Linked DNA regions of Homo sapiens: region 2 is linked to region 1. The links come from fine-mapping of genetic effects on gene expression. A gene starts in region 1. The other region holds a variant in brackets. All regions are shown on one strand. Distances are between the middles of the regions.

Region 1 (5,298 bases):
AGGCCAGGTGCAGTGGCTCACGCCTGTAATCCCAGCACTTTGGGAGGCTGAGTCAGACAGATCACCTGAGGTCAGGAGTTCAAGACCAGCCTGGTCAACATGGCAAAACCCTGTCTCTACTAAAAGTACAAAAATAAGCCAGGCATGGCGGTGGGCGCCTGTAATCCCAGCTACTCAGGAGGCTGAGGCAGGGGAATCGCTTGAACTCCGGAGGCAGAGGTTGCAGTGAGCCAAGATCGTGCCACTGCACTCCAGCCTGGGCAACAAGAGCGAGACTCCATCTCAAAAAAAATTAATTAATTAATTAATTAATTAAAACAAAATAAAATAAATATATGTACTTAAAATATATATATATATTTATTTTTAAATAGGGATAGGATCTCTCTATGTTGACCAGGCTGGTCTCGAACTACTGGCCTCAAGCAATCTTCCCATCTCAGCCTCCCAAAGTACTAGGATTGCAGGCATGAGCCACTGCACCCATCCCACCATTTGTAATTGTGGGCGGCAAGCCACCCAGGTGCCAAGGCAAGAGACTGAGGACACGAGCTGTTCCAGTATAATAAAATATAAAACAAGAATAGTTATACCAAATATAGATCTTAGAGATATATGAATATCATTAATCATTAGTTTGTAGTAATTACTCTTTATCCCAATAGTATAATAATCCTCGGTCTACAATCATAACCTAGGAAAAACCAGGCCATACAGAGATAGGAGCTGAGGGGACATAGTGAGGTGTGACCAGAAGACAAGAGTGCAAGCCTTCTGTTATGCCCGGACAGGGCCAGCAGAAGGGCTCCTTGGTCTAGCGGTGACGCCAGCGTCTGGGAAGACGCCCGTTGCCCGAGCGGACAGTGGTCTAGCGGTAGCGAAAAGTGTCAAGGAACAACACCCACTACTTAGCAGACCGGGAAAGGGAGGCTCCTTTTCCCTGGGGGAGTTTGGAGAAGACTCTGCTCCTCCACCTCTTGTGGAGGGCCTGACATCAGTCAGGCTCGCCCGCGGTTATCTGGCAGCCTAACCGTCTCCCTGTGATGCTGTGCTTCAGTGGTCACGCTCCTAGTCCGCCTTCATGTTCCATCCTGTACACCTGGCTCTGCCTTCTAGATAGCAGTAGTCATTTAGTGAAAGTACTAAAAGTCTCTGATATGCAGAAATAATGGCATAAGCTGTCTTTCTGTCTGTCCCCTCTCTCTCTCTCTGCCTCGGCTGCCAGGCAGGGAAGGGCCCCCTGTCCAGTGGACACGTGACCCACGTGACCTTACCTATCATTGGAGATGACTCACACTCTTTACCCTGCCCCTTTTGCTTTGTATCCAATAAATAACAGCACAGCCAGACATTCGGGGCCACTACCAGTCTCCGCGCATTGCTGGTAGTGGTCCCCCGGGCCCAGCTGTCTTTTCTTTTATCTCTTCGTCTTGTGTCTTTATTTCTACACTCTCTCGTCGCCGCACACAGGGAGAGACCCACTGACCCTGTGGGGCTGGTCCCTACAGTAATTTTAAAGGGAAGAGCAACAAACTTTCGGTTTGCAGGGCTGGGACTGTTTACAGCTGCAAAATTTAGAGAGGACATCAATCTATTATTATCCACATTTTACAGCTGGGGAAATCAATGCTAAGAGAGGAAATTCATTTGCCCAGAGGTGCACCACCCTGGCCTCCAATGTGCAATTCATGCAATTGTGATTTCCGACCTGGTCCCAAACTAACCCTAAAGTTAGCAGGCCAGAACAGTGCTGCTCAAATAAGTCAGCTTAGTCAAATAAGTCAGGCAAAGGTCGTGTCTTTGCACCTGGAGTCCTGGCCAGGCTGGTAGGTCCCTCCTCCTGGGACAAGTTCACCCTCAGAATTTTCAGCAAGATCATCTCCCACAGCTTGTTAATTGGTTCTTGGTTCTAAGTGATTTTTTTGTTTATTGGTTTAAGAGATGGGATCCCACTCTATCACCCAGGCTTGAGTGCCGTGGCACAATCATAGCTCGCTGCAGCCTCAAACTCCTGGGCTCGAGTGATCCTCCTGCCTCAGCCTCCCAGCCTCAGCCTGGGACCACAGGCATGTACCACCATGCCTGGCTCTAAGTGGCTTTAATGGGGTCCTTCTGAGGGATGTTGGAGTCAGGGCCTGGGGGGAGTTCCCCAGGCCTTCTGGGAGGCCTGGGCTCTGGACTTGACCTCGCCTACTGTCTGGCCCTGCTGAAAAGAAAAAAAAACATGGAAATGGCAGACCTAACAGAATCTGGGCTGTGGTCAGGATGTGGCTGAAGAAGCCACAAGAAAAACATGCAGTCCCCTTTCAGCGGTCATGCCCAGCAGTTGGGTGCCGATAATGGGCCTGATTTCCTGTAGGAAGCCCTGGCTCTCTTGGCCACATGGACAGTGTCTGAGGCTGGCCCTGTTATTCCCCTTTGCAGATGAAGAAACAGGCTCAGAGAGTTTACCTGGTATCCTGGAGTCCCAGGAGCACTTTTTCTGGAAGTAGGAGCTTGTTTCCTGCAGGTGCCAAGACAGAGACCGACATTGTTTGTTGGCTGGGTCGGTCTCCCAGTTTTCAGCTGGCTCCAGTCTCACCTGTTGCTCACACACCCTCCATGTCTCCCATAGTCCCCTCGGTGGGGACAGAGGCACTGGATGAAGCCCTGCTCGTCACCACAGAGACACCTGAACACAAAAACCAGTCCCTGGGGTCAGACCCAGGCCCCGCCCCCAGACCCAGGCCCTGCCCTCACTCCACCACGCAACTGTGCAACCTCAGTTTCCCCAGGTGGAGACCGGACCAACAGTGATGGCCTCTGCCTCTTCAGGTCATAGTACAGATGAATACAGGCTGGCACGGCCTAGGCACTCAGTAACACACAGCAGAGGCACAGGGACTTAAGATGGAGTGTCCCAGGCAGCCACAGTTGGCTGGCACCCAGCTGGGAAGGGCCCAAGGGCTTTTAAAGCAGGGTGAAAAAAAAGCCCACCTCCTTTCTGGGAAACTGAAACTGAAAACCTAATTAATCCTCTGCCTGTAGGTGCCTCATGCAAGAGCTGCTGGTCAGAGCACTTCCTGGAACTTGCTATTGGTCAGGACGTTTCCTATGCTAATAAAGGGGTGGCCCGTAGAAGATTCCAGCACCCTCCCCTAACTCCAGGCCAGACTCTAAAGGGGAGATCTGGATGGCATCTACTTCGTATGACTATTGCAGAGTGCCCATGGAAGACGGGGATAAGCGCTGTAAGCTTCTGCTGGGGATAGGAATTCTGGTGCTCCTGATCATCGTGATTCTGGGGGTGCCCTTGATTATCTTCACCATCAAGGCCAACAGCGAGGCCTGCCGGGACGGCCTTCGGGCAGTGATGGAGTGTCGCAATGTCACCCATCTCCTGCAACAAGAGCTGACCGAGGCCCAGAAGGGCTTTCAGGATGTGGAGGCCCAGGCCGCCACCTGCAACCACACTGTGGTAAGCTCCTCAACTCCTTTGGATGGCCTAGTACTAGGCGGTGGGAGGGACAAGAATCTCTCCCCAGAAATCTGACCCAGGGTGGGTCTCCAGGGAGATGCAGGGGAGGTCCTGAAACTGCTCCTGGGCCCCCACATCAAGGGACCTAGGTTCCCCTACCAGGGTTTGTGGGCCCCTAACCCAGTCCAGGGCACTGGTGTAGGGGCAGGGTGTTAAAACTCTCCAGATCCCCCAAATCGGGGACCTCAGTATCCCCCTGGGACTTAGGTGAATTTATAAATTCTTTCCAGGGCACTGGTGTCGGGGGCCTTGAAACTCCTCGTGGGCACCAGTCCTGGGGGAGTAGAAATCCCTATTCAGGGTTGAAGGGGGACCTCACCAGACCCTGAAAAAGGGGGCTTTTGAAATTTTCACTTCATCCCTAAGAAACTGAAATATTCACCTGGGTCCTGATATGGGGGATCTTGAAACTCTCGCTGGGCATGTCACTTGGGCGGGGAAATCCCACTGCATTCTGGATTTGGTAGGGCCCTCTAACTTTTCTTGGGCCATTGCTCAGGCAATCTGGAAATGTCCACTAAACTTTGGTTATCGATAGCCTCCAAGTTTCCACGTGGGGTGGCCTCAAAACTCCCATTTTGAGGACCCACATGCTTATGGGTGGCCCTGGGAGAGTGTGTGGTTGTGGCTGTTCTTTAAGGTTGGAGACCATGGTGCAGAGAGGGTTGGAAGAAAACCTGAAAGGGGTTTGCATTTAAGCCCCTCTGTCCCCAGGACCTAGGGAGGAGGCCCAGGTCCCAGGGGCAGCAGCCAAACTCCCCAGGCCAAAACCCCAGATTCTAACTCTTCTTAGATGGCCCTAATGGCTTCCCTGGATGCAGAGAAGGCCCAAGGACAAAAGAAAGTGGAGGAGCTTGAGGGTGAGAAAGGGAGAAGGGAGAGGGCCGGGGAGGGGTGAGTCAGGTATGGAAGAGGGGGTGGGGGCAGGGAGACCAGGGCTGGAGGTTGGGGTAAGGGGGAGGTTCTGTCCCAGAGTGGAGCAGGGCCCCAGCATGGCCACATGCTGACCCGCCCCCTGTTTCTGTCCTCCCACCCTACCAGGAGAGATCACTACATTAAACCATAAGCTTCAGGACGCGTCTGCAGAGGTGGAGCGACTGAGGTCAGAGATAGCCTTCCCCCGCTACCCTCCACCTGCCACATTCCTCTCACCCCCACATCCCTAGCCCAAGACCCAGGATCTCCTTTGCTCCCAAAATCCCCATTGCCCCAAGGGATAAAGTTTGAGTCCCACAAAAGGATAACTTAGCCCCTAGGGTCACAGAGCCATGGGTGGCCGCTGTCCATTCCCTCCCCGGTGACTTGGATTGGGGCGGTGCGGGGGGAACTCCCGGGGGCGGTGGGCTTACAGGGAGGGCGGCAGGAGCCAGGACGAGCAGATGCCTGATTTGCCATCTGTACCGCAGAAGAGAAAACCAGGTCTTAAGCGTGAGAATCGCGGACAAGAAGTACTACCCCAGCTCCCAGGACTCCAGCTCCGCTGCGGCGCCCCAGCTGCTGATTGTGCTGCTGGGCCTCAGCGCTCTGCTGCAGTGAGATCCCAGGAAGCTGGTCAGTGAGGAGGGGGCGGCCCCGGGAGGGAGAAGAAAGCTGGGGAAGCGGGGCGGGGAAGCAGAGGCTCCGAAGTCTAGAGAGAGAGGCTGCAGGGGAAGGGACTGGGCGCAGAGGTGAGGGGCCTTGGGGAAGGAGGGAGAATCCAGTGAGAAGGATGCCCTGGATCGGGGACGGGCTGATAGCTGTATGGGGCGGGGCTATCAATGGGGGCGGGTCTATCGATGGAG
Region 2 (5,443 bases), 24 kb after region 1:
TCTCGGCTCACTGCAACCTCCGCCTCCTGGGTTCAAGTGATTCTCCTGCCTCAGCCTCCCAAGTAGACTCCCAAGGGATTACAGGCACGTGCCACCACACCTAGCTAATTTTTGTATTTTTTTTAGTAGAGATGGGGTTTCGCCATGTTGGCCAGGCTGGTCTTGAACTCCTGACCTCATGATCCGCCCGCCTCGGCCTCCAAGTGCTGGGATTACAGGTGTGAGCCACTGCGCCTGGCCAATATTTTTATTTTTAGTGGAGACAGGGTTTCACCATGTTGGGCCAGGCTGGTTTCGAACTCCTGACCTCAGGTGATTCACCTGCATCGGCCTCCCAAAGTGCTGGGATTACAGGCGTGAGCAACAGCACCCGCCCTCTGCTGGTCATCTCTTTAAGTGTCTTTCTGTCTCTGGTTATCTCTGTCTGTCTACCCCTGTCTCCAGGGCACCATCCTGGGTAATCCCTATCCGTGGCCACACTGGACCTCCCCTCCCATAGCTGGAGGGACAGGGGTAGGGGACAAAAATGGAAAGCCCACAGTGGCCTTGGCAGGAGGGGACATGGGCTAGTTGCAACCTGACCTTTCCAGCCCTCCAGTCACAGGCAAGGAAGTAGGTCCCTGTTTTTCTTTTTATTTATTTATTTATTTATGACACCGAGTTTCACTGTTGTTGCCCAGGCTGGAGTGCAATGGCGCAGTCTCAGCTCACTGCAACCTCCACCTCCCGGGTTTAAGCGATTCTTCTGCCTCAGCCTCCCCAGTGCTGGGATTACAGGCATGCGCCAGGACACTTGGCTAGTTTTGTATTTTTAGTAGAGACGGGGTTTCTCCATGTTGGTCAGGGTGGTCTCAAACTCCTGGCCTCAGGTGATCTGCCTGCCTCAGCCTCCCAAAGTGCTGGGATTACAGGCGTGAGCCACCACGCCCAGCCTAGGTCCCTGTTTTTCAGCAGGGAACACAGAGTCCCAGAGAGCACAGGTTTCCCCCACCCCACAGAGGGACTCTCTTCGCTGCCTCCGTCACCTCCAAAAGCACAAAACTTAACTTCACTTCGATTAACCAAAAACCAAACTCACAGACATAAAAGTGGAGGGTTGGCCCGGTGCAGTGGCTAATGCCTGTAATCCCAGCATTTTGGGAGGCTGAGTTAGGAGGATCACTTGAGGTCAGGAGTTCAAGACCAGTCTGTCCAATATGGTGAAACCCAGTCTCTATTAAAAATATAACAATTAGCCGGGGGTGGTAGTGTGTACCTGTAGTCCCATCTACTTAGGAGGCTGAGCCAGAATTGCTCTAACCTGGGAGACAGAGGTTGCAGTGAGCCGAAATGGCGCCACTGCACTCCAGCCTGGGCGACAGAGCGAGACTCCGTCTCAAAAAAAACAAAAAAAGAAAAAGAAAAAAAAAAGCCAGGCGCAGGGGCTCACGCCTGTAATCCTAGCACTTTGGGAGGCCGAGGTGGGTGGATCACGAGGTCAGGAGATCGAGACCATCCTGGCTAACACGGTGAAACCCCATCTCTACTAAAGGCACAAAAAATTAGCCTGTAGTCCCCAGCTACTCTAGAGGCTGAAGCAGGAGAATGGCATGAACCCGGAAGGAGGCGGAGCTTGCAGTGAGCCAAGATCGTGCCACTGCACTCCAGCCTGGGCAACAGCGCAACACTCCGTCTCAAAAAAAAAAAAACAAAATAGTGGAAGGTTTTCTGAACTTCACTGAAATCCTTCTTCACCAGAAATATCACTTCCTCAAGGACCTTCCTGAAGTTCTGAGTGATTTTGTTTTTTTTTAACTCGTGTCTCCATGAGGACTTCAGTGTCAGTTTTCAGGGAGTGACACAGAGTTGACTTCCTCATGACAGTTTTTCCTTCTCCACTCAAACAAACAAATGAAACCAAATCAATTGTTTTCTGTTTAGAAAAACAAAAGGGTTTAAAAAGCAAGCCTGATTTTCTGATGCCCCTCCAAGGGAATTTGAAGGGATTCATGTGCAAAATTTCCTGTGAACATGACAAATTGTTTTCAGGAAAAAACCCAACACTCACATCAGGGCTGATGCATTTGACTTCATGTAGATTCTTGATCAGGCACTCACATTCTCCCTCCAGATTTTTCTGGCCAAGGACACAAACAGAACATTTTCATAAAGTCCATGTTTGGAGATTTCAGACATCGCAGGCAAAGATGTCAATGAAAACAACCTCTTTGAAGGACAAATTGGTGACAACTATCAAAATGTAAAAATGTGCCCACTTTGAGACCCAGTAATTTCATTCATTTCTGGAAATTTGATTTTCTTTCTTTCTTTCTTTCTTTCTTTCTTTCTTTTTTTTTTTTTTTTTTTTTTTGAGACCGGGTCTCACTCTGTCACCCAGGCTGGAGTGCAGTGGTGTGATCTCGGCTCACTGCAACCTGTGCCTCCTGGATTCAAGCAATTCTCTGCCTCAGCCTCCCAAGTAGCTGGGACTACCACACCCGGCTAATTTTTGTATTTTTTGAAGAGATGGGATTTCAACATGTTGCCCAGGCTGGTCTCAAACTCCTGGACTCAAGTGATCCGCCTGCCTTGGCTTTCCAAAGTGCTTTGGATTACAGATGTGAGCCACCGCACCCAGCCAGGAAATTTGATTTTAAATCTTCTTTTATTTATTGAAAAACTAACTCAGAAAAAATCTAAGTGTCCATTCATAATTTTATGGTACTGTATCTGGTGAAAACCTAAACAGCCAGCCATAGGAGTCAATGAATCTCAAAGACATAATACTGTGCAAAAAGAGGAAGGTCTATCTTTACCTTTTTTTTTTTTTTTTTTTTTGAGATGGAGTCTCACTCTGTAGCCCAGGCTAGAGTGCAGTGGCACGATCTGGGCTCACTGCAACCTCCACCTCCCAGGTTCAAGCAATTCTTCTGCCTCAGCCTCCCGTGTAGCTGGGAGTACTGGCATCCGCCACCATATCTAGCTAATTTTTGTATTTT[T/C]AGTAGAGATGGGGTTTCACCATATTGGCCAGGCTGGTCTCGAACTCCTGACCTCGTGATCTACCCGCCTCGACCTCCCAAAGTGCTGGGATTACAGGTGTGAGCCACGACCCCCAGCCTACCCTTTTTGCTAAAAAAAAAAAAAAAAAAAAAAAAAAAAAAAAAAAAAAAAAAATCAGGCCTGGCGTGGTGGCTCACGCCTGTAATCCCAGCAATTTGGGAGGATGAGGTGGGTGGATCACCTGTGGTCAGGAGTTCGACACCAGCCTGGCCAACATGGCGAAAGCCCATCTGTACTAAAAAATACCAAAAAAAAAAAAAAAATTAGCTAGGCATGGTGGTGTGCACCTGTAATCCCAGCTACTCAGGAGGCTGAGGCAGGAGAATCACTTGAACCCAGAGGTGGAGGTTGCAGTGAGCCAAGATCATGCCATTGCATGCCAGCCTGGACGACAAGAGAAAACTCTGCCTCAAAACAAACAAACAAAAAGTTACAAAGTTAAATCAGCTAATATAACAAATGATCCAAAACAGAAACATTACAAATTAAAGGTGTGAGATCAAATTAGAAAAGGACACCAAATATTGTTTTTGGGCTTGATACAAATAACATTGGTATGTATATTTAAAACTCTGCTTCTCACATGGTGACAACTGTTCAAAATTGTGGCACATCAGTACCATCAGGTCCGGGGGGCTTTTTGTTTTCTGGGAGTTTGAGGTTGCCTTTATTTTTCCTTGTCAACTGGTATCACATTCATACATACATAGATGCAACATCTTCTATATACAATGAAGAACAGCCAAGATCTTAAGTGTACACCAAGACCCACATCTACTGGCATTGGCCCAGACACTGCACCCAGCCTCAGCTCCTCTGCTGGACCCTGGTCACCCACACTTCATCCCCATCATGCTCTCCTTTCCCCAGTGCTCTCACAGGCCTGGGGCACCGGCAGCTGGGAATACTGCCCCTCCCCTATGTCTGAGTTCCTCAGCCTGACATCAGAGGCCAGGCATGATCCAGCCCTCACATCTTAAAAAATGCCATCATTGCCCGGTGCGGTGGTTCATTCTGTAATCTCAGCACTTTGGGAGTCCAAGGCAGGTGGATCACCTGAGGTCAGGAGTTTGTGACCAGCCTGGTCAACATGGTGGAACCCCGTCTCTACTAAAAATACAAAAATTAGCTGAGCAGTAGTGCTGCACATCTGTAATCCCAGCTACTTGGGAGGCTGAGGCAGGAGAATTGCTTGAACTCTGGAGGCAGAGGTTGCAGTGAGCCGAGATCGCACCACTGCACTCCATCCTGAGCAATAGAGCAAGACTCTGTCTCAAAAAAAAAAGGCCATCATTTATTAAGACTGAGTATGTTCCAGGCATGACGTCAAGTACTTCAAAACTGGCTATGTTGTTGGCCAGGTGAGGTAGCTCACGCCTGTAATCCGAGCACTTTGGGAGGCCGACGCAGGCGGATCACGAGGTCAGGAGTTTGAGACCAGCCTGGTGAAACCCTGTCTCTACTAAAAATACAAAAAATTAGCCAGGCATGCTGGCGCGTGCCTGTAGTCCCAGCTACTCAGGAGGCTGAGGCAGGAGAATCCCTTGAACCCAGGAGGCAGAGGCTGTGGTGAGCCAAGATAGTGCCACTGCACTCCAGCCTGGGGAACAGTGCCAGACTCCATCTCAAAAAAAAAAAAAAAAAACAAAAAAAAAAAACAAAAAAAACTGGCTATGTTGTCTTCACTTGATTTTTGTTTTGTTTTTGTTTTTTGGGTTTTTTTTTTTTTAGAACAGGGTCTTGAACTTGTGGGCTCCAACGATTCTCCCACCTCTGCCTCCCTAACTGCTGGGATTACAGGTGTGAGCCACTGCACCTGGCTATCTCCACTTCGGACAGGAGAAAACTGAGGCCCAGGGAGGGAAAGTCACTTCTCCAAGGCCACAAAGCTGGTAGGTGGCACAGTCAGAACTCAACTCCAGAACTCTAAACTGTAATGCTGGGTTCACTCAGACTACATTGCCCCCATTACGGAGGATGTTCTCCTCCTGCCCAGCTCTGGGGGGCTCTGGGTGGGTCTGGCCAACCCAGAGAAATGGCTGGTTGGGCACCCGTGGCAGCCCCCAGCCCTCCTTCCCCCACTAGCAGCCGCCGACGACGCCGCTGGGAAGGGTCCGGAATCAGGATCAGGAACCACCGGGTAGCTGCAAAGGTCAAAGGTCAGACATGGGTTTCCTGCCCACCCCTGGGAACTTCCTTCTTCTCAACTCTACACTCGCCTCACTGAGCACCACCCTGGAGTACCCCTCCGCTCTGTCAACGACCCCTCCCCACTCTGTTACCCTGGCTAATGGGGGGACGGGTCCCCACGCCCCAGCCTTCACATTGCCCTACAGAGGACAGCAATTGCATGATTGTCACCTGTCCGGAGTCCAGCCTCCTTTCCGGCTCCCTGCTCCTGTTC

What was found.
Region 2: its variant is fine-mapped to the expression of BST2 in whole blood (TOPMed, PIP above 0.99).

The regions. Positions count from the first base shown.
Region 1 is chr19:17,403,450-17,408,747 of GRCh38, reverse strand. It overlaps BST2 (bone marrow stromal cell antigen 2), which reads left to right and starts at 3,118. Exons shown (of 5, transcript NM_004335.4): 1 at 3,118-3,457; 2 at 4,311-4,377; 3 at 4,559-4,619; 4 at 4,924-5,068. The coding sequence starts at 3,173. The coding sequence ends at 5,053. BISPR (BST2 interferon stimulated positive regulator) reads right to left here and starts at 3,062. Exons shown (of 4, transcript NR_130766.1): 1 at 2,977-3,062; 2 at 2,452-2,671. It also overlaps a transcript of MVB12A not described here. RefSeq lists enhancers at 880-1,406, 2,107-2,156, 2,357-2,406, 2,457-2,516, 2,707-3,086 and 2 more.
Region 2 is chr19:17,379,168-17,384,610 of GRCh38, reverse strand. It overlaps LOC105372298 (a long non-coding RNA gene), which reads left to right and starts at 4,839. Exons shown (of 3, transcript XR_936362.3): 1 at 4,839-4,931; 2 at 5,125-5,198. RefSeq lists an enhancer at 4,563-5,443. The variant T/C (reference allele first, on the strand shown) is at 2,979.